Regions from separate parts of the Homo sapiens genome. Here regions 1 and 3 are each linked to region 2. Evidence: fine-mapped expression QTL. A gene starts in region 2. Each other region holds a variant in brackets. All regions are shown on one strand. Distances are from middle to middle. Region 1 overlaps ZC3H3 (zinc finger CCCH-type containing 3). Region 2 holds the start of LYNX1 (Ly6/neurotoxin 1). Region 3 holds the start of LOC124902034 (a long non-coding RNA gene).

The links.
Region 1: its variant is fine-mapped to the expression of LYNX1 in liver (GTEx, PIP 0.99).
Region 3: its variant is fine-mapped to the expression of LYNX1 in whole blood (TOPMed, PIP 0.92).

Annotation. Positions count from the first base shown.
Region 1 is chr8:143,526,195-143,536,301 of GRCh38, forward strand. ZC3H3 (zinc finger CCCH-type containing 3) reads right to left here. Exons shown (of 12, transcript NM_015117.3): 3 at 10,063-10,107. Among named protein-coding and RNA genes, the nearest start is that of ZC3H3, 10 kb to the right of the region's middle. The variant C/A (reference allele first, on the strand shown) is at 6,303.
Region 2 is chr8:142,772,419-142,782,589 of GRCh38, forward strand. LYNX1 (Ly6/neurotoxin 1) reads right to left here and starts at 4,784. Exons shown (of 4, transcript NM_177477.4): 1 at 4,688-4,784; 2 at 3,488-3,703; 3 at 3,175-3,276; 4 at 1-2,945. The coding sequence starts at 3,539. The coding sequence ends at 2,749. LYNX1-SLURP2 (LYNX1-SLURP2 readthrough) reads right to left here and starts at 5,454. Exons shown (of 5, transcript NM_023946.5): 1 at 5,341-5,454; 2 at 3,488-3,703; 3 at 3,175-3,276. The coding sequence starts at 3,539.
Region 3 is chr8:143,021,461-143,031,631 of GRCh38, forward strand. It overlaps LY6E (lymphocyte antigen 6 family member E), which reads left to right. Exons shown (of 4, transcript NM_002346.3): 4 at 106-949. The coding sequence ends at 329. It overlaps LOC124902034 (a long non-coding RNA gene), which reads left to right and starts at 9,273. Exons shown (of 2, transcript XR_007061135.1): 1 at 9,273-9,426. RefSeq lists enhancers at 1,806-2,569, 2,570-3,331, 3,332-4,095, 4,858-5,620. The variant T/C (reference allele first, on the strand shown) is at 5,091.

The DNA.
Region 1 (10,107 bases), 750 kb after region 2:
CATCAGGCAAGAGCCCAGCACCTCCCACCAAGAGTCACACCCATGACATCAGGGCCTCGCCAGGCTGGCCCACCAGTCACAGTCCCAACATAGCCCCAGAGCTCAGCGGATGCCCAGTGAGCAAGGGCAGGGCCAGTTCTGGAGAATGAGTGGCAGGAAGACCAGGTGCCTGCGGGCAGGAGACACTGGCCTGGGGCTGCTTCCTCTCCCAGTCCTGCTGCTGGTGCCGAGCAGGAGACCCCTCAGGGAACCAGGACTTCCTTCCCATCAGGACCCCGCCCAGCACGCGATTGGACTTGGTGCAGGGGGAAACAACCAGTGGGGATCACGGGGTTCCCAGACGATGCCCAAGTCCACATGGACTCTGACCACACCCAGCTTTGCCACGACCCACCTGTGGGACCACAGCAGGGGCCCTCAGGCAAGGGTCAAGGTGGAGAGACAGAGGAGGCTGGCAGGGGCCACTTACGGGCAGCAGATGGGGCACAGAAGGCTACAGCCCCAGCAGGGGACTAAACAGGGGCCCAGCAACATCCTGACCCCATGCAGAGAAGGGGCCAAATCCCAGAAGGTGCAGGCCACATTCGTCCCCAGCTGGAAAGCCGCCTCAGTGCCCAGAGCCACACCCACTCCCCAGTCCCTCAACAGGAGGCCAGCTGAGGCTGGCAGAGCCATGCCCCCATTACTTTGGTGGGAGAACCGAGAGCTGGTGAAAAGACACCGCCAGGAGGCAAGCAGGAGGCAAGCAGCACAAGCCCTGCTGGCCATGCCTGAAGATAGACCCCTGAGAGGCCGGCACAGGAAGAGGACAGGCGGGCAGAGTGGGAGGAGGACCAGGCCAGCAGGGGTGGCCATCGGGACGGCCCTGTGCCGTGCCCACCCGCCACCCGAGCACTTGGCAACGTGCCCCTGGCTGCCTGGTGGGGGTTAGCAGGTGGTGACAGAGCCTGTGTCCTGCACCCCAACACCCACTGCCTGGTGGACTCCTGAGAGAGGCCACCAGGGTGAGGGACCTACCCAGGCTCTCGGACAGGTGTCCTGCACTTGATTCAAAGTCTGCCAAGACACGTGACTGGGGGGATGTGCCAGCCCTGGGCTGGGAAGAGAGGGACAAGAGGACTACCTCAATCCATTCAACAAAAGGAGCAGCCCAAGCTGTCCCCAGTGTGGGGACCCAGGGTCCTACGGTGGTATGAGTTCTGGCTCTCCTGAGAACGCCACCCTGCCTGCGCAGCCCAGGTCTTCAGCTTGGCACCCACAGCACAGTGCAGCACCACCACGGCACACACGCGATCCCACGCCAGTTCTGTGAAGTAATTAATTAGCACAGCCACAACCCACGCAAAACTGGAGGCCGCCGGCATGCCTGATAATTTATGCAAGATTCAAAGATCGCTGTGGCTGCCTTTCCTGAAGCCTAATTCAGCATTTTCTTTTTCCCTTATGAAAGCAGGACTCCAGATCTAACTGCTCTCATGCCCTTTCACGGGGTTCACCGCAGTAAAATTGAACAGCCCAGCTGCACACAGCAAGCAATGGTGGATCACATACCCCAGAGGCACCAGGCAGAGCCTCCCAGGTGGGCAATGCTGGCCAGCAGCACAGCCCAGCAGGAACATCACACCGGGCCAAAGCACCCAAAGGCACCGCTCAGCCCCACAGCAAACATTCCTGACCCCATTCACAGATAGGGCACCGAGCACCAGCAAGGAGAACGGGCAGACAGGGCCAAAGTCTCCCGCCAGGCCACGCCCACACCACGCCTGGGGGCTCATAACCCTGCCTCCTGCATCCGGCAAAGGTCCAGGCCTCCAGCACCGGACATGGGGCTGCTCCCCAGTACCTAGCAGCATGGGACAGGGTGCCTGCTCCTCACTCTCGCTGGGGCCAGGGGAGAGTCTCCGGCCCCTCTGGCCCTGGCACCCTCCCCCACTGCCAAGACACAGCAAGCCCACCCTGGCAACCACCCTGCGGTGCACCTCGGGCCCTGCGTGCTCCTGCCTCCTCGGGGGCCGCCACTCATCTCTGCGCAGGGCAGGGGAGCCATATTGTTTCTGACCACAGCGCTCCAGCTCCCCACAAGGCTGGGACCCAGACCCAGCCAACTCACAACAGAAGCCAGGCGGCACTGCCGAGGCGCTGTGGGGCCAGCGGCCACGCCTCGGCCAGGCAGCGACAGACACCCTCCACGGTCAAGCTTCCATCCTCAGGCTCTGTGCAGCAGGTCAGGGCTCCACCCATGCCTCACATTCCATCCACGGCCAGCCTCCCGGGGAGATCGCCAGGCTCAGAAAGGCCTCCCAGCAGCCTGGCACAGGAGGTTACGGCGAGGATGGCACAGAAACCAGCCCCTCTGCTGGAGGCCGGGGATCGAGGCTGGTGGCACTCTGCCCACTTGCTCACTGAGCCTCTGAGTGCTGCTGCCGACCTCCACCGGCCTGCACATCTCAAAGGGGCAGGACAGCGTCAGGGCAGGGAGCCCTGTGTGGCTTTTCCTCCTGGTGGGCAGCCCTCTGCCAGGCCCTCACCCCTCGGTTGCCCGCTAAGCATGGTGACTGCCCCACCTTCCCGCCCATGGCCTGCCCATGGGGCCTCCTGAGGGAGCGAGGCCCTCCCTTCTGCCCAGGTCCAGTCCTCTGGGAGGGGGGGCGCCTCACCCTCACCAGGAGCTGCCGCAGCCTGAGGCTCACGTGCACGCAGGGCGGCCAGGGTGCTCCCCACAGCACCTTCTTAACAGGCAGGACGGACAATAAGCCGGCAATTCCTGCAATACAAAACATGAGGCAGGAGGAAGGAATGCCCATGGTGGCGGGGTGGCTGGCACGCGATCTTAGAGGAGCTGGCCTGGCAGAATGGACCACGGCCCACCTCACAGACTCCCGAATGAGGGGAGCAAACTGTGCACACCTAAGGGTGGGGGACGGGCCTGGCCAGAGGTTGGGCCTGGTTGGAGCAAGCCGGGCCTTCGAGGTGGGGCAGGGCCAGTCGAGAGAAAGCGGTTGGGTTTTTCCCATGCACTGGAATCCACAGGCTGCGCTGGTCACCGGGAGAAGCCGCTGGGGACAGAGGGACAGAGGGGTAGGGGGCCATCACACTCCCAAGCTGGTGCCTGCTCAGTGACACCCCCATAAGCATCTGTGGCCAAACAGTGCAAAGCCACAGCACGGGCTGGGTGCAGAATCCACCCAGGCCTCTGATGCCAGGGCTGCGTGGCAAACCACCCCCTCTCCAAGGCACCGGGAGGCAACACAGAAAGGATCGTGTGCACAGGGAGGACCCAAGGACACAGGAGGGCCCCAGGGACCTCTGAGGACTCAGAGAGGTCACATGAACAGCCGTCAAGGCAGGCCCTTCTGAGACCGAGAAGTCAGGAGGCAGCGTTCCAGGAAATGTCGCACCACAGTCGGGGGGAGACCCCACACAGGACTGGGCGGGCGGCCAGGGCTCTGGGGAGGCTGCCTTTGGCTTCACCAGGGCTAGAGGGTGAGACCCAGTATCCAGAGAGCGCCGTGTGCCTGAGGGACCCCAGCCTCTCAGGTCCCACCTGGGTCCTGCTCTGGGGCTGGGGGAAGCCACGACCACCTGGTGGCAGGGAGGGGCTGAGGGCCAACAGCTCACACAGGCTCTCCCTAAGCACTTCCTCAGAGAAACTCGGACTCGGGGAATGGGCATCCAGGCCCCAAAAGAGTCACCCAGGCAGGACAGCCCTGGCACCTAGTGACACCAGCCAGAGGTGGGTCCAAGACCCACGCCTGCCCTTTCTGCCAGTGAGCTGGGGTGAGTGGAGACTCCACTTCTCATCTGCAAATGCTGACAGCAGTTCCTCCACACCCAGGGGCGGGCACGGCAGACTGAGGGACGGGTAGGAATCGCCCTCCGTGTGTACAGCAAGCTCTGGGCCAGAGGCAGATGCCCGGCCTGGCTCCTGTCAAAGCCTGGGCAGCCGGCAGGCCTCGACCCAGCCTGGTTGTCCACACGAGACCACCACGCAAGCCAGGCCCTTTCTGTCCACCACAGGTGTGCCCAGGACCTGCCAGGCCCGCACCCTCCACCAGCACACTGGCGACAAGTCTGGGAAGGCGGCTGCTTCCCAGGCAGGGCCCTGGGCTTATTCCAGGCCACGGGGGAAGGGGGCAGGCCACCGGCATGCATCCACCATCCTGGGTGGGTGAAGCAGAGAGGGCCCTCCCACTCCAGCAGATGACGACACCACTGCCTACCCACCTACCATGACTTTTCCCTGGCGTAAAATAGCAGACGTTTCCATGTGGCTGGTAGGAATCCCATCACCTCCCGCCACCAAGAAGCTCCCCAGCCTGGGCACAGGGTGGTGGGTGGGAGAGCTGGCCCTCACTCCTGGCCTGGCCTGGAGTGTACAGCCTGGACAGCATCCCTCTGCACAGGCCGGCCAGGCTTAGGGAGTCATGCCTGTCATCTCAGGGTGGCCGAGCACAGCGACGGGCCCCAGGAGGATGTACCACGAAGCTGGCCCCACTTCCCCCGCACCACAGTGAGAGCCTGGCCACAGTGCTCAGCCGTGTGTACTGTAAACACTGTACTCGAGAACACTGATTGCCACAGTTATGTGAGTGGCAAACAGGACACCATTTTTCAGACTCCAAAAAGGTTTTCTTCTCTTCTGCCCAAATGCCCCCTCTAGCATCGGTCCACCAGAGACAGATCAACCCAGGCAGGTCTCTACTGCAGCCTCCAGCAAACATTACTCGCCCAGGCCACCCTTCTGGGGCTGTCTTCTATCTCCTTTTTTTTTTTTTTTTTTTTTGAGACAGGGTCTCATTCTGTCACCCAGGTTGCAGTGCAGTGGTGCGATCATGGCTCACTAGAGCCTCAACCTCCCAGACCTAAGCAATCCTCTCACCCCAGCCTCCCGAGTAGCTGGGACTACAGGCGTGTGCCACCATGCCCGGCTAATTCTCGCATTTTTTGTAGAGATGGGGTTTTGCCACGTTGCCCAGGCTGGTCTTGACCTCCTGGGTTCAAGTAATCACCCGCCTCAGCCTCCCAAAGTGTTGGGATTCCAGGCATGAGCCTCGGCACCCGGCCAGTGTCTCACATCCTCATCCCCCAGCTGCCAACAGACCCATCCCCAGGAGAAAAGGGAAGGAAGAAACGGAAGGCAAGGGGCACACTGACAGCAGAGGAAGAGACCCCCAGGAATCCCCTGCCCCGCCCCCAGCCGAGGTCTGACTCCAGGCCCAGAGGACTTCGGAGGGCCGGGAGAGGCAGGGAGGGGAGGAGAGGCACCGAAGAGTCAGGCTGAAACCTTCCAAACAGTCTCAGTCCCCAGGCGTGAGCGGCCACAGTGCTGCTGAACAATGCACTTTTGAATTCAATTAAAGCGATTATCTGTTGTGCCAAATAAATTGTGTACAGCATATATCCTGTGGCACTTTACACCTCCAGGCTCATTATTCCCTAACTGTTTCCTCCTGTTTATGCCTCTCAAATTAAATTGCTGATAATATGCGCCAAAATAAAAAATGAACGCACCTTGTCCCAAGAAAATTGATTCTCCCTTTTCCTGAACTGGCGATGGCCAGGTTTTATATACTCTGTTCTTGGTGATCATTAGTAATTCAATTTTCTTTTTATTAGCCCCCTTATCTGCTGAGCAATATAGTGGCAGGGCTGACCTCTTTCGCACGGGTAAATGTTTAAAATCTTTTCCCTGATTAATTTTGCCAGTTAAGAAAAAGAGGAGAAATGGCCCGGCTCTTAGCCATCACAATGAATAAAGCTTAATGTTGATTGTGACGGAATTTCTAATGCCAGGGAAATTGATTGAACGCGGCAATTACGCTGCAATAGTAACTCAGGGGAGATGGGATCGCTTTCTCCTGGCCGTAGCCTTTTGGTTATTTAAAATAATCCAATTTGCAAGGATAATTATGTATTAGCGTTTTATCTGCCACTTGAAATGAACAGGGGAGTTTCGATACTGGCCCAGCATTAGCAGGTTATTGCTGCAAATTACTTGGTATCTGCTTTCTTTCACATAAAAAGGAAATTACGCGATTACCAAAAAAGGGTGGACGGAGGCGATAGGAGGGGCAAGCATGCCCTCTGCTGGCCACTGGGCCGCACGGCAAGGCTGAAGTGCGGCGGGGGAGGGAGGCGGCAGCAGGGCTGCCTGGCAGCTTTCAGAAGCCCCTGTCCCTGGTGCATAAGTCCACAGGGCAGTCGTCCCCAGCTGGACACTGGGACACTGCCGTCTCCTTGAAGAGGAGAGGTGGAGCTGGAACTAAGCTTTTGCTGGGCAGAAAATGGGGAAAGAAAACTCC[C/A]AACAGCCAAATGAAGGAGCAGTCCCACCTGGCTGCCCCATCCACAGCCCACACGACCCCAGCATCCAGGAACGAACACCCCAGCCGATGGAGGCCTTGGCCACCCGGGAGGGCTGAAGGAGGGCCTGGGAAGGGCTCACTGGCTCACCAGAGCACTGCAGCGTTCAACGAAACAAAGCTGGGCCCTGCCCAGAAGCCCACTGGCCAAGGCAGAGGACAGGCAGGCCTCAGTTCCTAGGCAGGCAGGCAGGCATGGAGACGGTGGGCCTTGCAGGAGGGCACCTGGGGGAGCCACTCAACAGCTTCCTGGGCCCCAGCCTCCCATCTCCTCAGCAGACGCCCTGGCCACGCCCACCTCCCCTGCGGCCAGCTTGGAGTCTCACGGTGGCTGTCTCTGGGGTCAGCCGCCTGAGTGACCAGGCCAGGACGCAGGCTCGGCCTCTCACCTCCGCGCACATCTCCACGGGCTCCCTGCCTGCTTGAGAGCCTGCGGACTCCGCTCCTTGGCCTGGCGTCAGTGGCCTCACGCACAGGTCCTCCCGACTCTGCCCACTCGGGCCTGCCAGACACCCCGGGGCCCTGGACACGCCCCTCCCAGGGTCCTCCCCTGTCCCTCCCTGGCTTCCCAACGTAACCAGAACCAACCCCCCGTTCCCTCCTGTGGCCTACAAGACCCTTTCCCAGGACCTGGTCCCTCTGCCCCGTTGGCTGCATCCCCTCCAAGCCACACTCCCAGATGGTGAACTGGCCCCACAGCCTCCTTGTGCTCCAGAACACAGTAAGCTCGTTCCCACCTCCACCTCGGCCTCAGAGCTGAGCCCTATTCGCTCCTCTCTGCTCAGGTCACCTCCTCAGAGAAGCCCTCCCACTCGCCAACCACCTCTCTGCAGCTGGCCCTGTGCTCTCCCCCTGCCTGTTCCTCAGAAGGCATTTTCCACCCAGGAGCACCTTCCTGGCTGATGTACAAGCACTCCAGTGGCTGCCTGTCTCCACCACTGGAAGGCGGCTCCAGCCTCATCATCTCTTCACCTTCACTGCAGTATCCCCAGGAGCCGGCAGGCTGCCAGGCACAGTGACTCAACCACGCTTGCCAGTTGGGCCAGTGGTGGGCAAGTGAGTGGGACGCCTTCCCCACCCCTTCCTCAGACAGGACCCTCTCCTCTCACTCCATGCAGCCGCCACGCTGGTCTTTTTTTTTTTTTTTTTTTGAGACAAAATGTCACTCTGTCGCCCAGGCTGGAGTACAATGGCACGATCTAACCTCTGCCTCCTGGGTTCAAGTGATTCTCCTGCCTCAGCCTCCCGAGTAGATGGGATTACAGACGCTCGCCACCACACCCAGCTAATTTTTGTATTTTTAGTAGAGACGGGGTTTTGCCATGTTGCCAAGGCTGGTCTTGAACTCCTGACCTCAGGTGATCCACCCGCCTCGGCCTCCCAGTGTGCTGGGATTACAGGCATGAGCCACCACGCCCAGCCTCACGTTGGTCTTTAACTATGAGTTTGGCTGGGCACAGTGGCTCACACCTGTAATCCCAGCACTTTAAGAGACTAAGGCAGGAGGATCACTTGAGCCCAGAAGTTCAAGACCAGCCTAGGCAACAAAGCAAGACCCTGTCCCTACAAAAAAATTAAAAATTAGCCAGGCACAGTGACATGCACCTGTAGTCCCAGCTATTCAGCAGGGTCACTTGAGCCCAGGAGGTTGAGGCTGCAATGAGCTGTGACTGCACCACTGTACTCTGGCCTGGGAGGGAAGCAGGGCCCTGTTTCTAAAAACATTAAAAAAAAAAAAAAAAACGACGAGATCAATTACGCCCTTCCCTCTAGTGAGGCAGGACCGCAGCAGCCCCTCAGCTGTGCACTCCGAAATGGTCAGCCGGTGAAGCTGGTGGCCTCCCAAACCCACTCTTCCTGGCAGGAGTCCGGGGGGCGCCGAGCAAGGCCCCACCAGCAGGAAGCAACCTCCCCCATCCCCTGCCTATGCCCCACTCTACTAGAGGCCTGAAGAGGGAGCAGGCCAGGTGAGCAGGGCTGAACCTGCACCCAGTGGGGAGCCTCTCACCCCAACCACCACGCCATCTGCAAGCCTTGGCCTCCTAGGGCTCAGCAGACCCTGCTGGCCTCCCAGAGCTGGACACCTCCCCAACCCCTCCTCCCCAAGTGACCAGGGGATACCGCCAACTGTCCAAGCCACCCCTACCATCCACTCCCAGATAAGCCCACGACCTAACCACCATCCGGCCACCTCACTGTGGCCACCAGGGACCGCATGGGTCTCTGCTTGCTCCCTGTCACCAGGATGAAATCCACATGTCCTGGCGTGCAGCAGGTGTCGGCTAACGGGGTACAGCCGACCAGCGCCCCCAGCCCCACTTCCTCCCACCCCACTGTGCTGCAACACCCGGCTGCATCGCCCCATTCAGCCCTCCACCTGGGACCCAACGCCCTGCCCTCCCGCGGCAGCCCCCACACGGCTCTTGGGTCTGCCCAGGCCCAGCTCCTTCCAGAGCCGTCTGAAGCCTCCCTAGATGACGGTACGCTTGGCTGGGTTTCTTTTTTTTTTGAGACAGAGTCTCGTTCTGTCGCCCAGACTGGAATGCAATGGAACGATCTCGGCTCACTGCAACCTCCCAGGCTCAAGCAATTCTCCTCCCTCAGCCTCCCGAGTAGCTGGGATTACAGGCATGTGCCACCATGCCCAGCTAATTTTTGTATTTTTGGTAAAGATGGGGTTTTGCCATGTTGCCCAGGCTGGTCTTGAACTCCTGGCCTCAAGTGATCTTCCCACCTTGGCCTCCCAAAGAGCTGGGATTACAGCCATGAGCAACCGCGCCCAGCCTTGGCTAGATTTCTGAGCACCGGTTCCCAGTCGGAGTGCCCAGGTCCAAGCCTGCTCAATCCCCAACGCCCCACCTTCTCCAGATGTCACAGACACGAGCTCGGGAAGTCACTGCCCTAACGCGCCCAGCAGAGCCCCAGAGTCGCACAGGACCAGGTGCACACAGACGAACGTGGCTCCACACTGACCCCCACGGTGTCTGGGGGGTGCCACACCCAAGGGCTCTAGACCCTCACCACATACCCCCAACCACGTGCCCGCCTGGAGGCCGCTCCCCCAGTGTGTCCTGGCAAACATCACCGCAGTGGGGGTCAACCTCAAAGGGGCTACGCCCCACAATCTGCAGGCCGGGGCCTTCCCAGGCCACCACAGGGGCTCTCAGGGGCTCAGACCAGTTCTCTCCAGGCGTGACTGGGCACACTTAGAGTGGTACAGCAGGAGACCAGACCAATTCTTTCAGGCCACTCAAAAAACTCACACAGTACCATGTGACACTCAGAAAGGGCAGGGCAGGTAGACCTGCAGCCCCAGCCAGCTGAGCACAGAAGGGCCCTGGAGGAGGCAGAGGCCTGGGGGTGCCCAGCGCAGCACAAGCGAGGGCTTCACCCCTGCTTAAGGGCTCAGCAGCCGCCGCCCTCTCCTCCCTCAGGAGGGACACAGCTGGGTCCATACCAAGGGACACACAGAAGAGGCCACAGCACCTGCCCAGCAGCACATCCCACAGCCAGACTGCAGGGCGCAGCATCCGGGCCCTATCCTCTATCTGCCAGCCCACCACCACCGTCTGCCAGGCAGTGCCCTCCCAGCCAGGGCCTCTACCAGCATGAGGCAGGGAAGGTGCCCATGGCTCCTAACACGCCAGCATATCCCATCAGGCAGGCCCAGCCCCAGTGCCCAGCGCCCCTGCTCCCAGCATACCTTCCTTGGTGGGGAGGTGGGCCCGGCTCGGTGGCAGGCGACATA
Region 2 (10,171 bases):
GCTTTCCATTTTGTAAACTCACCTCCCCCTTCCCAGGCTTGGGGGTCCAAGGAACCCCAGCTGGTGGGAGAAGCGGCTGCACTGTGGTGCAGGGGGTGGTGAGTGAGCGAGGAGGCACTAGTGTGGGGCAGCTACTTCACCTCCCTGTGCCTCTGTGTCCTCCTCTGTCAAAGGGGCAAGATAATGGCTCCCATTGCCGGGCTGCTATACAGTGCTCAGGGCCACAGTGCAGTGGGGGGACCCACGTCCATCGCCACCTTGATGCATACAACCCGGACAAGTTTACTGCTGTGATTTCTGCCGGCGCTGCTGTGCCGGTTCCCTGGTGCTGCACAGCCACGCACTCCCCATGAGTGGGCCTGCCCAGCATTAGCTGAGTGCCTTCTGTGTGCTCTACGCCAGGTGCCAAGGGCAGGCCAGCCAGGCAGAACCATGTGTGGGGCTGGGACAGGTCAGGGTGGTGGAAAGGTGGACAGAAGGAGGCAGGAGGCAGGTGTGAGAAGCTGCCCACCCCACCCCTCAACACCACAGCACTTCCAGCTCCAGCAGGTCCTTGTTCTCAGCTGCCCCTGAGCCATGGGTGGCCAGGTCTCCTCCCCATCACCCCACTGAGACTCGAGACAGGGAGGACCTGATCCTGGAGTCCCTCCCAGCCCTGGCTGAGGAAGCCACCCAACCCGACAATGGGCTTGCGCAAGCCGCGCAGTGACTGCTCCCAGCCTCTCCCAAGGACTTAGGAGCCCAAAGCCGCCTCCCTCCCGGTAAGCATCCCAAGGCATCGCTGGCTGCAGCTGAGAGGGCCTCATTTGGGCACTGCCCTGAGGCTGGCACTTGCAGGTGGGGGCCCTTGGGAGCTCTGGGAGGCACCTGGCAGCCTCCCAGACACCCCGGGCCGGTCCTGCTCTCCAGGCTTAGGGCTACAGCCACAACCACTGGGGGTAGGGGCGAGGGGAGTCCAGGCCCACCCTGTGCTGGCAGCAACTCCTTCCCAGCTCTGGGCCCAGTATGATGCCCATCTTCCCTCTGGGGAGTCACGTTCCTCCCGCTCCGGGCCCGTTCCCACCCAAGGTCCCTTTGCAGAAGACTGGCACTGTCCTCCTCCAGCGGGAACTGGGTGTGCCCTCAGCAAGACTCTGCCCCCTCCCATCCTCATGTTCTCAGGAGACTGAAGCTGGGCACTCAGAACCAGCCCCAGGAGCAGAACGCAGGCCTGCATATAGACTCACTGCAAGGAGACCCCTGGGGTGGAGACCCTCATTCCCTGATCCCCCAGGGGTCCTGCATCAAAGCTCTGGAGATGCAATTTCCAGCAGGGGCTCCCCTGACCAGGGCCATACTTTGGGGCCGGGACAATCCTACCACATGGATATGTCACCATCCTGCCCATGCGGGATGGCTTGAAGGGTTTCTCAGGACACCAGAGCTGGGAGCACTGGTCAGGTGGGGGCCTCAGGTGCAGCGTGACCGCTGGCACCAAAAGGTCTCACGCCCCCGAATGCCCCATTCACAGCAGGGGCAGGTGCTCCCTGGGCTACCTGCATCGGGGATGGATTGGTGCGTGTTGGGCTGACCCCTGCTTCCCAGGCCTGGGGTGGGGTCCCTGGGAGTCCACACACCCAGCTGGGGCTTCCACCCTGCCCTCCCAGTGGGTGCATCCCCAGGTGGAAGGTGATGGAGGGACCCACTCACTGTGCGCATCCCGCTGCGGGGGAGGGGCTGGGTCTCCGCCCTCCCCACCCCACCCTCCCCACTCCCGCCCCCGCACGGCCACGAGAGGGTGGCATGCTCCGCCTTCCCACGCCCAGGCCCGCGCCGGCCCCAGGCTGCTCCCAACCCCCAGCCTGTGCGCGCATCCCCCAGTCCTGCGTCTTTTGCCTTGCTCGGCTGGGTCCTGCTGTGGTTGGGGACCAGGACTCGGGGGACCACCTGCTCTGCCCCTTTCCCTCCCTGCCCAGAATAGCGCTGGCCGGGTCAGCGTCCAGGACCCACCAAATATAGCATGGCCCTAGCTCCTGCCAGCTTCAGGCCTGGTGCCCTCCCCGTGAGGGGGTGGGAAACGTCAAGGGGTTTGACTGAGAGGACACACACCCCTTGCTGGACCCGAAAAAGCTTCTGTGACTTCGGGGGCCCTGGGGCCTGCTGAGGCAGAGCCGCCCCCTCCCCTGCAGGGGGTGGCTCCAACTCGGGCCTGGCAGACTTCCTAGCACAGGGGCCGGTGCCAAAGGCCCTCCTCCCACAGCCCTGATCCCGTACCGGTCCTGGCAGCTCCTGGCCTCAGTAGGAAGCGTGACTAGGCCTGGAGGAGCCTTTCCTCCTAAGAGTCTCCCCACCACCCCACCTGCGGGCATTCCTTGTCTTCCCCCTGCCCCAGCACACCAGGGGCAGACTGAGGCAGGGGCCTCTCCTAGGGCTTCCCAGAAGGTGGGCTTGGCCACAGCTCCCATCTGCTCAGTGCTCCCTGCCTGACTGGGCCCCTCCCCATAAATAGCCCTGGACAGGCGAGGGGCTGATCAGCCCATCAAAGCCGGACACTTTTGGGATCCCACACAGCATCGAAAGGTCAAGGCCTCGAAGTGAGGTCGTGTGGTGGTTGGGGGAGGTCGGGTGTCTTCTTGCCCACAGTCCTGACCCTGGGCATGGCTGAGGAGGTCGCAGGGAGTGTGGAGGGTGAGGCAGGGTGAGCTGGGTGCGAGGGTGTAGCAGTGTGTCTCGAGAGCTTTGTTCTTGAGTGGGTCTGCCTCGGGGGCTTTAGAGGAGACCCCAGAGGGTGGCCAGGAGGATGGGGGCCAGGGCCAGGGTGGCCGGGGTGGCAAGGCCGGTGCCGTTGCAGAGGTCGTACTGGCAGCAGGAGGTGGTGGACGCGTGCTTGGAGTAGCCATCATACACAGTCTCGAAGCAGCGGGGCACGCAGGACTTACTGACCTTCATCCTGGTGGGGGTGTAGTCTGCAGAGGGGCGGGGCGGTGAGCCAGCTCCGCTAAGAGGGGCAGGAGACCCAGCTGGCCCCACCCCAGCATCCACAGCCATCAGGGCAGGGCCCCTCAGCCTGGAGCTCCCAGACAGGATCCGGGAACAGGAGAGCCTCCTTCCTCAGGACCCCCGCATGCTCAGGGGCAGGGCAGAACCTCCCCTTCGTGCTCCCCAGGCAGGGCCACGCAGGGCCCCCAGACTCACAGGTGCGCGTGGTCATGCAGTAGGCAACCATAGCCGGGCAGCGCATGGGGTTGAAGCAGTTGTCTCCGTTGTAGGCACACACGTGGCAGTCCAAGGCCTGGGCTGGGGTTGGCAGATGGGCGGGAAGGGAACGGGGGTCACAGAACATGAGAGGCCCCTCCTCCAGCCCATCAGGCCCCCAGCCCGTCACCTTCCCCGGGGCAGGGGGCTAGAAGGAGGGGTTGTCGCTGGGAATTCTAGCCTCCTTCCCTACTGTCAGCCCATCTGCCCTCAAAGTGGGTCTGCCCATCCCTCTGTCCTTTGTCCATCTTACCCAGAGGTAAGCCCATGAGGACCACCAGGATCAGGGTGAGCAGGGGCGTCATGGCTGCAGGCAGGAGGGCAGCGTGGGAGTGGGGAGGTCAACAGCAGCTAGCCCTGGATCCAACTCAGGGGTGGCGCACAGAGGATCCAACTCAGGGTGGTGCGCAGAGGACGTGGGGCCGGCCCTGCCTCCCGGAGCTCCTGGTCTACTGGGAGTGCTGCAACCCTGCACAGCAGGTGGCAAAGACAGGTGGTCAGTACTGGGCCTGAAGGACCCATGGGGGCCTGGGCAGGGATGATGGTGGGCAGAGGGGCCACCTAACTCAGTGGGTGTCAGGGAAGGTTTCCTGGAGGAGGAGACACTTGGGATGGGACAAGAAGGGAGAAGAGATCAGGACATTTCAATCAGAGACCAGCACCTGCAAAAGCTCAAAACAGCCTGTAGCGCTGGATGGAGGAGAGATGGGGGGAGGATGAGGGGCAGTGCTAGAGAAGGAGTAGGGATGGGCAGAGGGGCCTTAAATACCAGGCCTAAACAAGGATTTTACCCAGGGGATGGTTGGTGCAGAGGTCCCATGGGAGGTGGTCTGCAGCCCCATCCCAAGCAGGGCCCTGGGGGCCGGATGGCTGGCCATGGCAGGACTGGGCCCAAAAGCTGGGTCTCTTCTCGCTGTTCCCCTCCTCTCTGCTCCTGGGGTGTCCCTACTTGGGGTTCCTTCTTCCAGAAGACCTCCAGAGCCCTGGTTAGGGTTGTCTGAGTCCTCGGCCACTGCAGAAGCTCCCCAGCAGGGATGAGCTGTGCCCAGCTTGGGGGGAATGCATTTTGAGCCCCTCCCAGGAGGGCACTTGGGCCAGACAAGAAGAAGCATTTCCCCGGCTGGGTCTGGTGTTTGGAACGGGAATGCCCTCTCTGGAAAGAGGTTTACAGTGGGGAGGTGGGGGTTGGATTACGGCTCTCCTACCCCTGCCGGGATACTCGGCCCTCGGTCTCCGTCCTGGAGGACTAAATTAAACTTACGCCTTCCCGAGAACAACAAATCCGTCTCTCACGACACATTTGCCCAGGCCAACCCCAGGATGCCAAAGGCCAGAGTCAGGCCTGCGGCTTCGAGCTTCCCAACCCCCTCACGGAGAGCCCCGCCCCAAACACTGCGGTCCCAGGTCGAGGGGAGGGCTCTCGGCGCGAGCGGGACTATCAGGGTGACCTCACCTGTGACCTTCACCACCGTGAGGTACCGCCGCGCCTGGGAGTCACCCGCGGCCGCTCGCCGGTAGGTGCCTGCCTGAGTCTAATCGTAGGCGTGTCTGTGTGTCCCGCAGCACCCGTGCCGCATCGCCTGATGCTCACCGCAGGCCCAGCCCAGTCCCGCCCCCGGAACAGCCCGCCCAGCGCGAGCTCACCGCAGGCCCCGCCCCAGGCCTGCCCCGGCCCCACCTCCTGAGCAACCCCCCGAGCCGAGCTCACCGCAGGCCCCGCCCCGGACCCGCCTCCTGGGCTACTCACCAAGCCGCGCTCACTGCAGGCCCCGCCCCTGCCCCGCCTCCTGGGCACCCGCCGAGCCGAGTTCACCGCAGGCCCCGCCCCGGACCCGCCTCCTGGGCACCCGCCGAGCCGAGTTCACCGCAGGCCCCGCCCCGGACCCGCCTCCTGGGCACCCGCCGAGCCGAGTTCACCGCAGGCCCCGCCCCGGACCCGCCTCCTGGGCACCCGCCGAGCCGAGTTCACCGCAGGCCTCGGCCCGGACCCGTCCCCGGACCGCCGGCTCGCCGGGCAAGCGCTGGGACCCCGAGGCCAGTCCAGGCATCTGGATCTCCGACACAGAGGCAGCCACGCAGTGATTCCCTGGCGACCCTCAGACTCACGTGTTCAGCCCGGACACTCCGCAGGCTATCTTCACCGCGTCCCGCGGCAGCCCAGCCTTCCCCGCAGCCGCCTCCGCCCACTCGCCCGCGCCGCGTCGTTTGTCGGCCGGCACCAGCCTTGCGGCCCCAGCTCCGCCCTCCTGCAGCCCAGGCCCAGCAGCTCCGGAACTGGCGCCCTTTGGCGCACCCGCCTCGCTGCCCATGGCCTCCGCCTGCCTCCCCTGCGCTCAGCTCCCGCTTCTGGTCCCTGTAGCAAAGCTGGAAGGCAGGCCTGCAAGGCAGCCCCTTGCTCCGTGGTCCCTCTCACCATCATAATGTTCATATTAAATAATTATCTTTACATAACTTTGAATACTTATGTTATTGGTTCTGTTTTTGGCAAAATGTAATAAAATTTCATGGGTCCGAAAGTTTTCATTTTTTCCAATGTGAGAAAGAAAAATAAAACCTTTTCTTCTACCCTAAAGCTCATTTTTTTCTTTAAAACATTTTTGCGGGCCTGAGGTACAGAATACACCATGCCTGCTGGGCAAGCGGGCTCCGGTTCCAGGAAATCCTTCGGTCCCCAGCAAACTAGGCCAGTTAGTTGTTCTGTTTGCCGAGAGGTAATGCGCACCCTCCTGTGCCAGGTCCTAGTTGGGGAGAAGGCAAAGAATAAAACCAGCAGACGTTCCAGAATATTCCCACCCCATGGAGCTCACACTCTGGTGGGATAAGGGGCGTGGAAGGAACGCATAGGTCAGAACCAGAGTATGTCGCGGTCTTCAGCCTCAGACCACGATGAATTAATACGGATGAAACTTCCCTTGCCCGCCCGCCAGCGCTCGCCTCCTGCTGTGTGGCGTGGTTCCTAACCGGTCTGTGACCCAGGGGTTGGGGACCTTTATGTTAAAGGAAGTTCTTCAGGCAGAAATACGGATCTACACAAAGGAATAAATGACACCAGAAATAGGAAATAGAAGGTAATTTTTTTCTTATTTTTGAATCAAGTTAAAAGATAGTTGATTACCTAAAGCAAAAATAATAACAATGTATTAAGGAATTTATAGCAAATGTAGAAGTAAATTGTATGATAATAGTAGTGCAGGCTGGGCACCGCGGCTCACGCCTGTAATCCCAGCACTTTGGGAGGCTGAGGCGAGTGGATCGCTTGAGCCCAGGAGTTCAAGACCAGGCTTGGCTGGGCAACGTAGAGAGACCTCATCTCTAAAAAAAAAAAAATACCAAAAAATTAGCTGGGTGTGGTGGTGCACACCTGAGGTTGCACCCAGGAGGCTGAGGTGGGAGAATCACTTGAACCCAGGAGGTGGAGGTTGCAGTGAGCTGTGATCACGCTACTGCACTGAAGCCTGGGTGATAGAGCAAGACGCTGTGTCAAATAAATTTAAAAAAAAATAGTAATACAAATAGACCAGGAGAGGGACAATGGAAGTTCACTGTTGTAGATTTATTCTACTCTATGTGAAGTGGCCTACTATTTCTTGGAGGTAGACTAGTAAGTCAAAGGTGTATGCTAAGACGCTAAAGTGTCACTAAAAAAAGACAAAGAAAAAAGCAAAAGTCAAAGCACTGTAGTTAATAAATCAACAAAAGTGATGATACAGAATTATTTATTTATAAAAGCACATGTTACAGAGACTGCAGAAGAGGAGAAAGGAAAAAACAATGAGACAAATAGAAAACAAATAGCAAGATGACATATATTTAAACCCAGCCACAGCAATAATGACACTATGTCATCTAAACACTTCAATCAGGCTGAGCACGGTGGCTCACACCTGTAATCCTAACCTGTAATCCCAACACTTTGAAAGGCTGAGGAAGGTGGATCACTTGAAGTCAGGAGTTCCAGACCAGCCTGGCCAACATGGTGAAACTCCCTCTCTACTAAAAAATACAAAAATTAGCTGGGCATGGCGGTGGGTGCCTGTAATCCCAGCTACTTGGGAGGCTGAGGCAGGAGAATTGCTTGAACCTGGGAGGCAGAGGTTGCAGTAAGCTGAGATGGTGCCACTGCACTCCAGCCTGAGCGACAGAGTGAGTGAGACTCTGCCTCAAAAACAAACAAAAACATCTCAATTAAAAACAGAGGTTGTCAGATTGGATAAAAATAGAAACAGCCAAGTATATGCTGTCAGTGGGAAACTCACCAGACATGTAAAAACACAAATAAGATAAAAGTAAAAAGATGGAGAGAGATATACTATGCTAACACCAATTAAAAGAACACAGACATGACTACGTCAATATCAAAGTAGGTTTAAAGCAAAGACTATAATCAGAAATAAAGAGGAGCATTACTGGCCAGGTGTAGTGGCTCTCATCTGCAATCCCAGCACTTTGGGAGGCTGAGGTGGGAGGATTGCTTGAGGCCAGGAGTTTGAGACCAGCCAGGGCAAAACAGCAAAACACTATCTGTACTAGAAAGAAAGAAAAAAAATTTAAAAAGAGGGACATTACCAAATGATAAATTGATCAGTTCATGAAGAGGACTCAGCAGTTCTAAATATGTATGCACCTAACAATTAAGCTTCAAAATACACAAAGCAAAACAAACAACATCTGATAGAACTGAAAGGAGAAAAAGAAAATCCACAATAACAGAGATTTCAACACTCCTCTTTCGAGAACTGATAAAAAATAGACAAAAAGTCTGTAAGGATGAAGACGTGGATCACATTACCAGTCAACATGACCAACTTGATGTTTGTAGGACACTCCACCTCACAGAAGGGGAACACACCTTTATTTACCAATAATGTCCTCCAAGGCAGACTGTATTCTGGGCCATAGAACAAATCTCAGTAAATTTATACGGATTAAAATCATGCAGATTATTTGCTTGGACTACAATGGAGCTAAATTAGAAATCAATAACAGAAATATATCTAAAAGATCATCAAATATTTAGAAACTGAGTAATAACATATTTCTAAACAACTTATAGGTCAAAGGAGAAACCAAAAAGGAAATCAGAAAATATTTCCAACTGAATGAAAATGCAAACACAATTCATCAAAGTCAAAGGATGCAGCTGAAGTGGGCCCTGGAGGGAAATTTTGCACTAATGCTTCTTTTAGAAAAAAAAGAGCTAAAACTTCTTTTGGAAGAGAAAGAAGTTCTCCAAAAAAAACCACCTAAACTTTCACCCTCGGAAACCAGAACAAAAAGAGCAAATCAAACCCAAGGTAAGCAAAATGAAGAAAATAGCAAAAATAAAAGCAAAAAAAAAAAAAAAAAAAAGTGAGGTAGAAAAAGAAGATAGAGAAAAATCAATGAGAGCAATGTTTGAGAATGCCCCTCCAGGAGGAGGACCTCAACAACCCTCCCCAGTCCGGCTTGTCCATGGCAGGACCAGAGAAAGGACCTCTTGCAAACCAAAGCTAGCTGCCTCTGAGTTGGGGGCTGGCCAGTGGAGTGGGCGGCTGGGGCTGCCCCTCCAGCCCTCCGTGGGATCTGGCTGTCGAGACTGGGCGTTAAGGGAGGCTCTTGGGCCCCCCTGATCTGACTGAATAATGCTCCTTTCTTTCTCCCACCTGGCCTTTCAGCCAAGATGCTGTCAGGCGTCATCAGCCCCACACAGGGCCTGCAACCTTGTAGGTGGGGACAGCGCAGCTGGCCAGAGGGGGCCGGGTGGGAGCTCAGGCCCGACTGGACGGTGAGGAGAGCAGAAGTTCCGAGCAGGTGGAGGGAGGATCCCTTTTCAGAGGACCTGGTCAGTTGCTTTTGCACAGTCTCCCTGACAGCTGCCCTCTGTCTGGACATTGTGCTTTGACTGCTTTTAGCATTTCCATTTTTAAGGCATAGAGAAAATTGCATCCGGTGATGGGCCAGGAGAGTCAGCCATGCACCCCATGACAGGGACAGTGCCCCACCCCTGGGTGCTGGCCAAACCTCAGTGGCTGTGCCTTGGGGCCCCACCACTCAATCCTATGCCTAAGCATCTCCCTGCAAGTTCTGAGCTTGGGCTCTGGCAGAGGGAGCTCCTCCTTCAGGGGCACTCAGGACATGGGGGCAGGGCTGTCGGCCCCCTCTGGCCAGCTGCGCTGTCCACACCTACAAGGTTGCAGGCCCTGTGTGGGACTGAAGATGCCTGACAGAGTCTTGGCTGGGGCTGGGGCTGGGGTCAGGTTGTGTCCAGGACAGTTGAGGAGCTGTCCAGCAGGGTCACAGAGAAGCAGCCTGGAGGCTGGGAGACTGAGCTAGGGACCCCTGGAGGCACAGGGCAGAGGGCAGTGATGGGCTATGAGCTGTGACTGTCCTTGGGCTTGGTCTGGAGTCCTGCCAGCTCCCAGGCCCCATTGCAGCCACATGGGCAGCCTAGCCCTCTCTGGATCCTGCAGGTTCGCTCCCACTCCTGGGCCTTTGCCCAGGGCCCGCACGCAGCCTCATCCATGCTGCCTTCGTTGTCCCTGTACCTGCTGCTGCTTTGCAGTCTTCCCTGACCCACCAGCAGAACTCCCTCTTCCTTCATTCCTGGAGTTTGGTGGCCACAGCCCCCGTTTCCTGCCTTTCAGGGGTGGGAGTGGTAGGGGAGGTGGCATTCCCGCCTGCCTCCAGGCTGCACTGGACACAGAGCACTCCCGTTCCCTGGGCCCTGGATGAGGATTCCTGCAGCCAGCCTGCCGTGAAGTGGCAGGAGTCACTTTCCCTTGCCCAGCCTTAGTTTCCCCATACGGAAGTGGGGATGGGTGGGCCTGCGGCCTAGGCACTCCTACCCCTCTGCTCTCTGCCCGACTCCCATGCCCAGGTGCCTTCGCACACCCTGCCCTGGGCGCTTGGCAGGCCTCAGGCCACCTGTCCAGAGTGGAGTGGAAAAGGGCACAGATGG
Region 3 (10,171 bases), 250 kb after region 2:
TCCTCCCCTGGCCATCTCCCTAGCCCGGGCCGGGGCTCAGCAGAGGCCATTGCTGTCTGTCTGCAGCCGTCTGTCTCTCCCCTGACAGCCTCATTTCCCATGCAGGGAATCTCGTGACATTTGGCCACAGCCTGAGCAAGACCTGTTCCCCGGCCTGCCCCATCCCAGAAGGCGTCAATGTTGGTGTGGCTTCCATGGGCATCAGCTGCTGCCAGAGCTTTCTGTGCAATTTCAGTGCGGCCGATGGCGGGCTGCGGGCAAGCGTCACCCTGCTGGGTGCCGGGCTGCTGCTGAGCCTGCTGCCGGCCCTGCTGCGGTTTGGCCCCTGACCGCCCAGACCCTGTCCCCCGATCCCCCAGCTCAGGAAGGAAAGCCCAGCCCTTTCTGGATCCCACAGTGTATGGGAGCCCCTGACTCCTCACGTGCCTGATCTGTGCCCTTGGTCCCAGGTCAGGCCCACCCCCTGCACCTCCACCTGCCCCAGCCCCTGCCTCTGCCCCAAGTGGGGCCAGCTGCCCTCACTTCTGGGGTGGATGATGTGACCTTCCTTGGGGGACCGCGGAAGGGACGAGGGTTCCCTGGAGTCTTACGGTCCAACATCAGGACCAAGTCCCATGGACATGCTGACAGGGTCCCCAGGGAGACCGTGTCAGTAGGGATGTGTGCCTGGCTGTGTACGTGGGTGTGCAGTGCACGTGAGAGCACGTGGCGGCTTCTGGGGGCCATGTTTGGGGAGGGAGGTGTGCCAGCAGCCTGGAGAGCCTCAGTCCCTGTAGCCCCCTGCCCTGGCACAGCTGCATGCACTTCAAGGGCAGCCTTTGGGGGTTGGGGTTTCTGCCACTTCCGGGTCTAGGCCCTGCCCCAAATCCAGCCAGTCCTGCCCCAGCCCACCCCCACATTGGAGCCCTCCTGCTGCTTTGGTGCCTCAAATAAATACAGATGTCCCCCAGCTTCCTGCTCTGAGTGTGGCTGCCCCTTGCGGGGAGAGGCAGAGCACCCCAGGTTTGGAGGGTCCTGGGGTCTTCTGTGGTATGGCCCAGGGGGGTGGTGGGGGAGGAGGAGTCGTCCCCTGAGCCACAGCCAGCTGCTTGCCTGACCTCAGAGGGAGCCCCTCCCCAGTGCTCTGCCCTTTCTTCTGCCCCAGGTTCAGCAGGTCAAGTGAGTTCCTCCTCCCACAGCGGAAGGAGGTGTTGGGGGGCATGGAGGAAAGAAAGCGGGTGCAAGAAGGAGCACGCTCAGGCTGGGGCAGCACCCAGGGCCGTAGGACTTGGGAATGGAGGGTGTCTGTCTGGACCCGCTGGTGCAGAGGGTACAAAAGCTGGGCTGGGGCAGGACAGACGGGCCGGAGTGTAGTGAGTGGCCTGTGGGAGGGGCAGGGGGCTCCCACGCAGAAGCTCTGGGCAGCAGCCCTGACCCATCCGTGCCTGGACTGCAGTGCTGCCCGCTTCCCCCTGGCAAACAGGTGGCAGCCTCCTGACAGAGGAAGCCGGCCCAGGCCGCCGTGTCTGCAGTTGGGTGCTGTGCGCTGCCCAGAGGGCTCTTTGGGCTGGAGAGAGAAAACAAGAACAGACACCCAGTGGAGGTGTGTTTGTTCATTTCTCCGGGACAGTGGGAGGGAGCCGGCCAGGGTCTCAGCCACTTAGGGCCCGACCCTGAATTTTCCCGGCTGGCCAGAAACTGTGGTGTGTGTGTGTCAGGATCCCAGGGGCACCGTCCAGCAGGAGGGGCCGGTGGTCAACGTGGAGGCCCGAGATTCCCACCCCTGGCAGCTGATGTGAATAGCCGGGTCCTCCCAGGTCCCTGAGGTCAAGGCAGGTCAAAGACCTGTGTCCTCCTCCTGGGTCCCTGAGCTAGTGATTCCTGTCTGAAACACATGAATCATTACTGCCACCCATGAGGGGCCCATTGTAACCGAGCGAGAGGGCCTGGAAGAGGTCAGCGGGAGGAGGGGCCTGATCGGTGGATCAGCTATCCCTGTGCAAGGACCCGGAGCCCATCAGAGCAGCCTGCAGAGACTGAGCTTGAGATTCCGTCGGGAGTTTGGATTCGCTGAGTGGGTCGCTCTAGCATTGAGAAATGCAAGCAGAGAACAGAGGGTGGAAACCAGATGGTCCAGGAGCCTGGGCACTGTAGCCAGGAGGACAGAGATCCCGGTGTTCGGGCCCCGGTGTGCAGTGCGTTCACTGCATTGTTCACTCGGAATCGCAGGTGGCTTTGCTGGAGGGACAGACAGTTGATCATAGTGGAGCTGGTGAGAGGAAGCTGCACCCAAAAGCCATGGCCGGGAACCTGGATCTGACTGCAGGGAAACAGAAGCGTGGTGGGCGCTGGGCGATGATGGAATTTCTAACAAATGCTTTGTTTCTGCTAAAGCTAACTTGCGCTTCCATCTCTGGCATCTCCTCCACTTCCCAGGTGAGCTGACTGGTTACTGAGCCTCACAACCACACTGAGACGGGGGCGCAGTCATCCCCTCGTTTCCCCAGGGGAGACAGGCTCAGAGTGGAAGCCGCTTGTCCTCCTAGGATCTGGGACTCGGGGCCCAGCTCTCCCTCTGCTCTGGGTTTAGGGCTGAGGTCAGAGGCAGCCCTGACCTCCTGCTGGTGGTGGGTAGGGTAGTCCCGCCGGGTTCCTGCTGCCCCGCCCTCGGGAGGCTGGAGGCCCCCCAAGGACAGGTGGTTTCCAGGAGCAGCGGGAGGGAGCCCGGGTTGTGTCCTGGGCCTGGAGCAGAGAGGGGAGGAGCCCAGCGCCTGAGTTTCAATTTCCTGAAGCCTGGGGGAGGGAGAGGAAGAGAGCCTCGTTTCGTTTCGGGGCTCTGGACCTGAGCCTCCCGCCCAGGGCCCACCGCACCCCGCTAGGACCTGGGATTTCCCAGTCTCCACACCGGCCCGGAACTGGGCCCCCTCCTCTCCGCAGCCCATCCAGCCCCACTTCCCCGCTTCCCCGCTTCCCAGCATCTGCCCGCGGATGAGCCTCTGGAGGATGGGCGGCCCGTCCCGGCGCTGCCCCTCACCCACCCCCCACCGCTCAACCCCTGTGGGGACTTCCTGCAGTGAGGCCCAGGCAGGACGCTGCGCTGCCTCCCCCATCCACAGCCTCTGCCCCCTTGACACCCCCGCCCTCTGCGGTGCCTTGCAGGAGTCGCCAGCCTGTGGGCCCGGGACCATTTCACACGCTGTCCACAGTCGTGGAAACCCGGCAGCCACAGCAGGCCTGGGCCCACGGTGCCTCCACCCCTCCGTCAGCCCCCAGCAAGTCTTCCTGGGGGTCCCCAGCCCTGAGTGCGAGACCCTCCAGGCTGCTTCTGGACCTCGGGGCTGGGGCTGAGCCCGATCCTGGCTGGAAATGAGTGCAGGGCCGGGCTGCCTGGGGGAAGGCCCTCCAGTCTCTGAGCCCCACCCTGGGGAATTTGCTGGGACACCTTGAAGGCCGCAGGCCAGACCCCAGGGGTTAATAAGGGAACAAAGTCCTTGGGCGAACACCTGCATTTACTATCTGAGCCAGCAGGCAGCTAGGATGCTGGGTGAGGGGGTCTCTGGGCTGCTGGGCGGCCAGGCGGGGGCATCGGGGCAGGAGCTGAGGGCTGCACTGGGCAACCACCCTGAGCTCCTGTTTACCCACCAGGGGCAGTGCCAGGGCGGGCTGGGCTCACAGCAGAGCCCAGAGGAAGGGGCTCAGGCTGAGCAGGAGCTCCCTGACAGCCTGGCACCAGAGGCCACGCCGCACTGTGGCCGCCTTGTTACGGAGGCTATTTTCACAGCAGGTCATGTCCAGCTTCTCAATCTTCGAGTCAATCAGTCTATCCTCAATTTCTGTGGGGTAAGACCCTCCAGGGACCACAGGATGGGTGAGGTTCATAATCTGGGCACAGAGTGGGGCCACAGCCCTTGCTAGTGTAGCTGAGCTTCTGCCCTGTGGGCAAGAGAGGAGGGTGTCTGGCACAGGAGGCCCCACCCGACCCCCTCGGACCCGCCCCAGGACCGCCCCCTTCAGGGAACCTTGAAGCCAGTGGGGACGCGGAGGCGAGCAGAAGAGAACGGGCGGCGGCCCCAGGCCCCACACCAAGTCTGCAGTCCATTAGATGGAGGTCCCTGAGCTCTGTCCCCAGATCTAAGCTTCCACCAGGCCAGGGGGCTCAAGGCAGAGCCCCTGGGATGCTGCCAGAGAGTGCCCTGCCCACCCCTCACCTGCCTACAGACGCTGGGTCCCACCCAGGACTCACCATCGATAGTGCCAGTGACCACAGAGGAGGGGCAGCTTTGAGCCTGCATGGGATAGGAGACGGGGTGACACAGGCTGGGGTCCAGGACACCGTAGCACTGGAAGCACTCAAGGCCCTGGCCTGGGATGGGGCGGGGAGGGTGCAGGTCAGGGTCGCAGGCTGAAGGGTGGGTTCCAGTCCCTCTCACCAGCACCGGCAGCAGGCCTGGGCAGCACACAGGTAGGCTCAGGTGCCCTTGGCTACTCAGAATTGTGGGCAGGGTCCTGCTGGCATCTGGAGCCCCCAGCATCAAGAGGGTCTTACTCCCACCTTCAGGCCTCCTTCCCATCCCCCACCCTCAGCCAGCAGCAGCATGGGGCTAGTGACCTTCATGGTCTTGGGTATGGGTGCATTGAGGGCACGTGTGGCACAGAGGCTCTGAGCCTGGGAAGAGCTAGGGGAGGCCTTGCACCCCCGAGCCTGGGAACCTCTGCCCCACTTCTGGTTTGTGATGAGGAACCCGGATTGTTTGTGTAAAGTGCACACAGCTGATGGCCTCATCCCATCATCTCACAGAATGGGAATTGAGGGGTAGAAACCCTTCCTTCCTGACCTGGCTGCTCTGGAAGGCAGACATGACCTTGAGCAAGACCCCTCTCACCCCACCCCTTCTCTGCCTGGGGCCTCCCAGAGCTCAGGGTGTGAGCAGAACAGATCCGGAGGGAGGAGGGGCTGCGGTGAGGAGAGGAGGGGCTGCGGTGAAGAGAGGAGGGGCTGCGGTGAGGAGAGGAGGGAGAGGTTGTCCCCTGGGGTGGGAGGACGCCTTAGGAGAAGTTCTGACTCAATAGAGAGGAGGGTCCTGGACTAGGGCCTTGAGTTTCAGTTTCAG[T/C]TTCCTGGTACATCACAGTGTTGGTGTCTGAAGCAGGAGAGAAAAGCAGCCGTGAGACCTCAGGTCACACCCAGGACCAGGCCCTTCCCGCTCAGGATGAGGGTCTCTGGCTGAGCCCACCACTGGCAGGCCCCCGTGCAGACAGAGCCTGGGAGGGGCCAGCAGGGCAACAAGCTCTGACACTGAGACCCCAAGCCAGGCACCCCTTGTTTTCTGTGCAGGGAGCAGAGGCCCCTGTAACGGGGTGGGACGACATGGGGGCTCCCTTGGGGCAGGGGAGGAGGGGTCCAGAACTCTGTCCTGGCCACAACCGGAACCACCCCTGTCCCTCCCCCCTGCCCACCCCCATCACACCCACACCCGAATTTGTTCTTCACGGAGAATCAGAAGACACAGGAAATGGGCCAGGGGTGACTGACTGCAGACTCCACCCCCCCTCCCCAACCAGGTGCTGGGCAGAAGGAAGAGAGGGCTGCCTGGGCTGTGGGGACAGAGCCCTTGATGAAGACAGATAAAGGCAGCAGACCTGCATAAGGATGGGTCGCCTCTCCGGTGGGTGGTCCCTTCCGAAAAGCAGAATCCACTCTGTGCCCTCAGGGGTCTCTGCTTGGAGAGTCCATGGCATCTGAGAGGATGGGCCAGGTGAGGTGGGGGTGGCTCCTGAGAGCAGGGAGGACAAGGGCGGAGCTGGAGGCGTCAGGCCCAGAAGACCCCCCCAGTGACTCGGGGCAGCTGTGGGCAAGGCTTGGACCCAAGAGGCCTGACCACCCCGCCTGGCAGCACACCAGAGCACAGGCCAGACCTGAAGGGGCAGCGCCAGGGGGGCCCATGGTCCACGGGTCACTCTGCTGGCCCTGCGGCCACACTGCTCAGGTCCCAGGGCCTGATGATGGCTGAGCCAGACATCATAACACCAAGCAATGGAGAAGTTAGAATATTGCTAGGGATACTGACTTGTATTTTTGAATCTTAAAATATATGTTTTAATCTGACATCTATAAGCAGTGCATGTTACATGCCAGTCAGAGCACGAGCATCCCCAAGAGGTGTGCACTCTGTGTATCTATGGATAATGAAAGCACGGCTTTCACACAGCAAGTTATCCTCACTTCCTGTGATCAACTCTGATATCTTCTACTTTATTTGAAAGAGTATTGATTGTGTCCCACTCGACTGATTTTACACCCTCTATGTACATGGTCCCCAGTTTATGGGCAGGGCGGTTATTTTGTGTTTTATTTTGTTTTTGAGACGGAGTCTTGCTCTGTCGCCCAGTCTGGAGTGCAGTGGCGCGATCTCGGCTCACTGCAACCTCCGCCTCCCGGGTTCCAGCGATTCTCCCGAGTAGCTGGGATTACAGGCGCCCGCCACCATGCCCGGCTAATTTTTTTATTTTTAGTAGAGATGGGGTTTCACCATGTTAGGCTGGTCTCAAACTCCTGACTTCAAGTGATTTGCCTGCCTCAGCTTCCCAAAGTGCTGGGATTACAGGCATGAGCCACCACACCTGGCCTGTTATGTTTTTTGAGATAGGGTCTCCCTCTGTCACCCAGGCTAGAGTGCAGTGGTACAATCACAGCACATTGCAGCCTCAACCTCCCTCCCAACCTCAACCTGCAGGGGAGGGGAGGGAGAGGAAGGGAGGCTCATCTCAGGGCTCTGAACCTGAGCCTCCCACCAGGGATTTCCCAGTCTCCACACTGGCCTGGAACTGGGCGCCCTCCTCTCTGCAGCCCCATCCAGCCCCCACTTCCCAGCATCTGCCCACGGATGAGCCTCCGGAGGATGGGCAGCAAGTCCTGGCACTGCCCCTCACCCGCCCCCCACCACTCAGCCCCTGTGGGGACCTCAGGAGGTAAGGCCCAGGCAGGACCCTGTGCCACCTCCCCCATCCACAGCCTCTGCCCCCTTGACGCCCTTGTTACAGAGGCTCTTTTCACAGCAGGTCATGTCCAGCTTCTCAGTCTTCAATCAATCAGTCCATTCTCAGTTTCTATGGGGTAAGACCCTCCAGGGACCACAGGATGGGTGAGGTTCATAATCTGGACACACAGGGAGGGCCACAGCCCTTGCTAGTGTAGCTGAACTTCTGCCCTGTGGGTGAAAGAGGAGGGTGTCTGGCACAGGAAGCCCCACCCGACCCCCTTGGTCCCACCCCAGGACCGCCCCCTTCAGGGAACCTTGAAGCCAGTGGGGACACAGAGACAATCAGGAGACAAGCAGAAAAGAACAGGCCGCGCCGAGTCTGCAGTCCTTCCAGGCTCAAGCGATCCTCCTGCCTCATCTTCCAAGTAGCTGGGACCACAGGCACCTGCCACTACCCCCAGCTATTTAAAAAAAAAAAATTTATAGAGATGGGATCTCACTATGTTGCCCAGGCTGATCTTGAACTCTTGGGCTCAAGTGATCCCCTTGCCTCAGCCTCCCAAAATGCTGGAATTGTAAGCGTGGGCCTCTGCACCCGGCCTGGTCCGCAATTTAAAAACACACAGCCACCATTCCCTCTCCAGAAAGCACCCAGATGCCTTTGGGAGAACCAGCCTCCTCCATGGAGGAAAGCTTGGGATCTGCCTTCCCACCTGGGGAGGAGAGGGATCTGTGGAAAATCCTTCTGACGGACTTCCCCTCAGTGCCTGATCCATACTCAATAGTAGAAAAATTAAGAAATATACAAAGATAGCAGATACACGGAGACAGTTCCCCAAATAGCTGAGCGAATAGCGCAGAAGCAATATTGAAGACCTAATAGCTGAGACATTTCCAGAACTGATAAAGTGCGTCCAGCCACAGATCAAGCAGCCCAGAAAATTCCAGGCAGCATCAACAAATAAATAGCCCCACATGCACCCGTGAAAATGCAGAAGACCAAAGAAAAAAGTCCTGTCAACAGCCAGAGAAAAAGATCAGCCACCAGGGGTCGGTAGTGAGAAGGACAACTGTGGAAGCCAGGAGAGATGACAGCCCTGAGTTCCACAGGCAATGGAAGAAAGACTGTCAGACAGAAAGGTTGTCCCCAATATACTTGCACTAAAAGAAAATCTTTTTTTAATTTATTTATTTATTTATTTATTTTAGACAGGATCTCACTTTGGAGTGCAGTGGCGGGAACACAGCTTATTGTAGCCTTGACCCAGGCTCAAGCGATCCTCCCACCTCTGTCCCCGAAGTAGCTAGGATGACAGGTGTGCACCACCATGCCCAGCTAATTTTTGTATTTTCATAGAGGCGGGGTTTCTCCCTGTTGCCCCAGCTGGTCTTGAACTCCCTTGATCAAGGAATGCTGGGACTACAGGTGTGAGCCACAGCACCGGCCAAGAAGGTCTTTTAAAAAGTCTTTTCGGGCACGGTGGCTCATGCCTGTAATTCCAGCACTTTGGGAGGCCAAGGCGGGTGGATCACAAGGTCAGGAGTTCAAGACCAGCCTTGCCAAGACGGTGAAACCCCGTCTCTACTAAAATTAGCTGAGTGTGGTGGTGGGCACCTGTAATCCCGGCTACTCGGGAGGCTGAGGTAGGGAATTGCTTGAACCCGGAGGCAGAAGTTGCAGTGAGCCAAGATCATGCCACTGCACTCCAGCCTGGCGACAGAGACAGACTCTGTCTCAAACAAAAAAAAGAAAAAGAAAAGAAAAGTGATCTTTAGGCTGGACATGGTGCATGGTGGCTCTCACCTGTAATCCCAGCACTTTGGGAGGCCTAGGCAGAAGGATCGCTTGAGTCCAGGAGTTCCAGACCAGCCTGACCAACATGGAGAAACCTGTCTCTACTAAAAATACAAAAAAATTAGCCGGGCGTGGTGGCGCATGCGGGTAGCCCCAGCTACTCAGGACGCTGAGGCAGGAGAATCGCTTGAACCCAGGAGGCAGAGGTTGTGGTGAGCTGAGATTGTGCCATTGCGCTCCAGCCTGGGCAACAAGAGCAAAACTCCATCTCAAAAAAAAAAAAAAAAAGTGATCTTTAGGCCGGGCACAGTGGCTTGTGCCTGTAATCCCAGCACTTTGGGAGGCTGAGGTGGGTGAATCACTTAAGGTCAGGAGTTGAAGACCAGCCTGGCCAACATGGTGAAACCCCATCTTTACCAAAAATACAAAAATTAGCCGGGTGTGGTGGCACGCACCTGTGATCCCAGCTACTTGGGAGGCTGAAGCAGGAGAACCACTTGAACCCAGGAGGCGGAGGTTGCAGCGAGCCAAGATCTCGCCACTGCACGCCAGCCTGGGCAACAGAGCGAGACTACATCTCAGAAAAAAAAACAGTGATCTTTAGCCAGAAGGAAAATGGTCCCATTCAGAATCAGAGATACCTCAAGTGATGAAGCACAGATTCGTAGAAATGTGGTGAGTCTAAATGAACATCAATTCTATTAAAAAAGATAAAATAGTGGCCGGCGCGGTGGCTTACGTCTGTAATCCCAGCACTTTGGGAGGCCGAGGGGGGCGGATCACCTGAGGTCAGGAGTTCAAGACCAGCCTGACCAACATGGTGAAACTCCATCTCTACTAAAAATACAAAAAAAATTAGCAAGGTGTGGTGGCACATGCCTGTAATCCCAGCTACTAGGGAGGCTGAGATGGGAGAATCACTTGAACCCAGAAGGCCTCTCACGCCATTGCATTCCAGCCTGGGCGACAGAGCAAGACTCCGTCTCAAAAAAAAAAAAAAAGTTCTGTCTTGTGGGAGATTTAAGTTTTTGTGGTGAAATTAAAATTCATACCATAAATACAAACCTGGAAAGGAGTGAATACAATGAGGCGAACCCACTGGGCGGTTACACAGTGGCCCACAGCTGTAGTCCCCACTACTCAGAAGGCTGAGGCAGGAGGACGGCTGGAGCCCAGGAGTTCAAGACCCACATGGGCAACATAGTGAGATGGAGCAGGGACCCCTCCTAGGTGCCTGCCAGGCTCTCCCAAGCTTGGAAATCAAGGAACACTCTTGAATCCCTTCAAGGGAAATTCCAGTCACCTTGCCAGCCTTGAAAGGTAAGTGAGCAGCCTGCCAGGAAGGCGACGGGAGCACGGGTCTCCCAAGCAGGCCACAGCCACAGGTGGTTTGCTTCCCTATAGAAACTAAAGCATAACA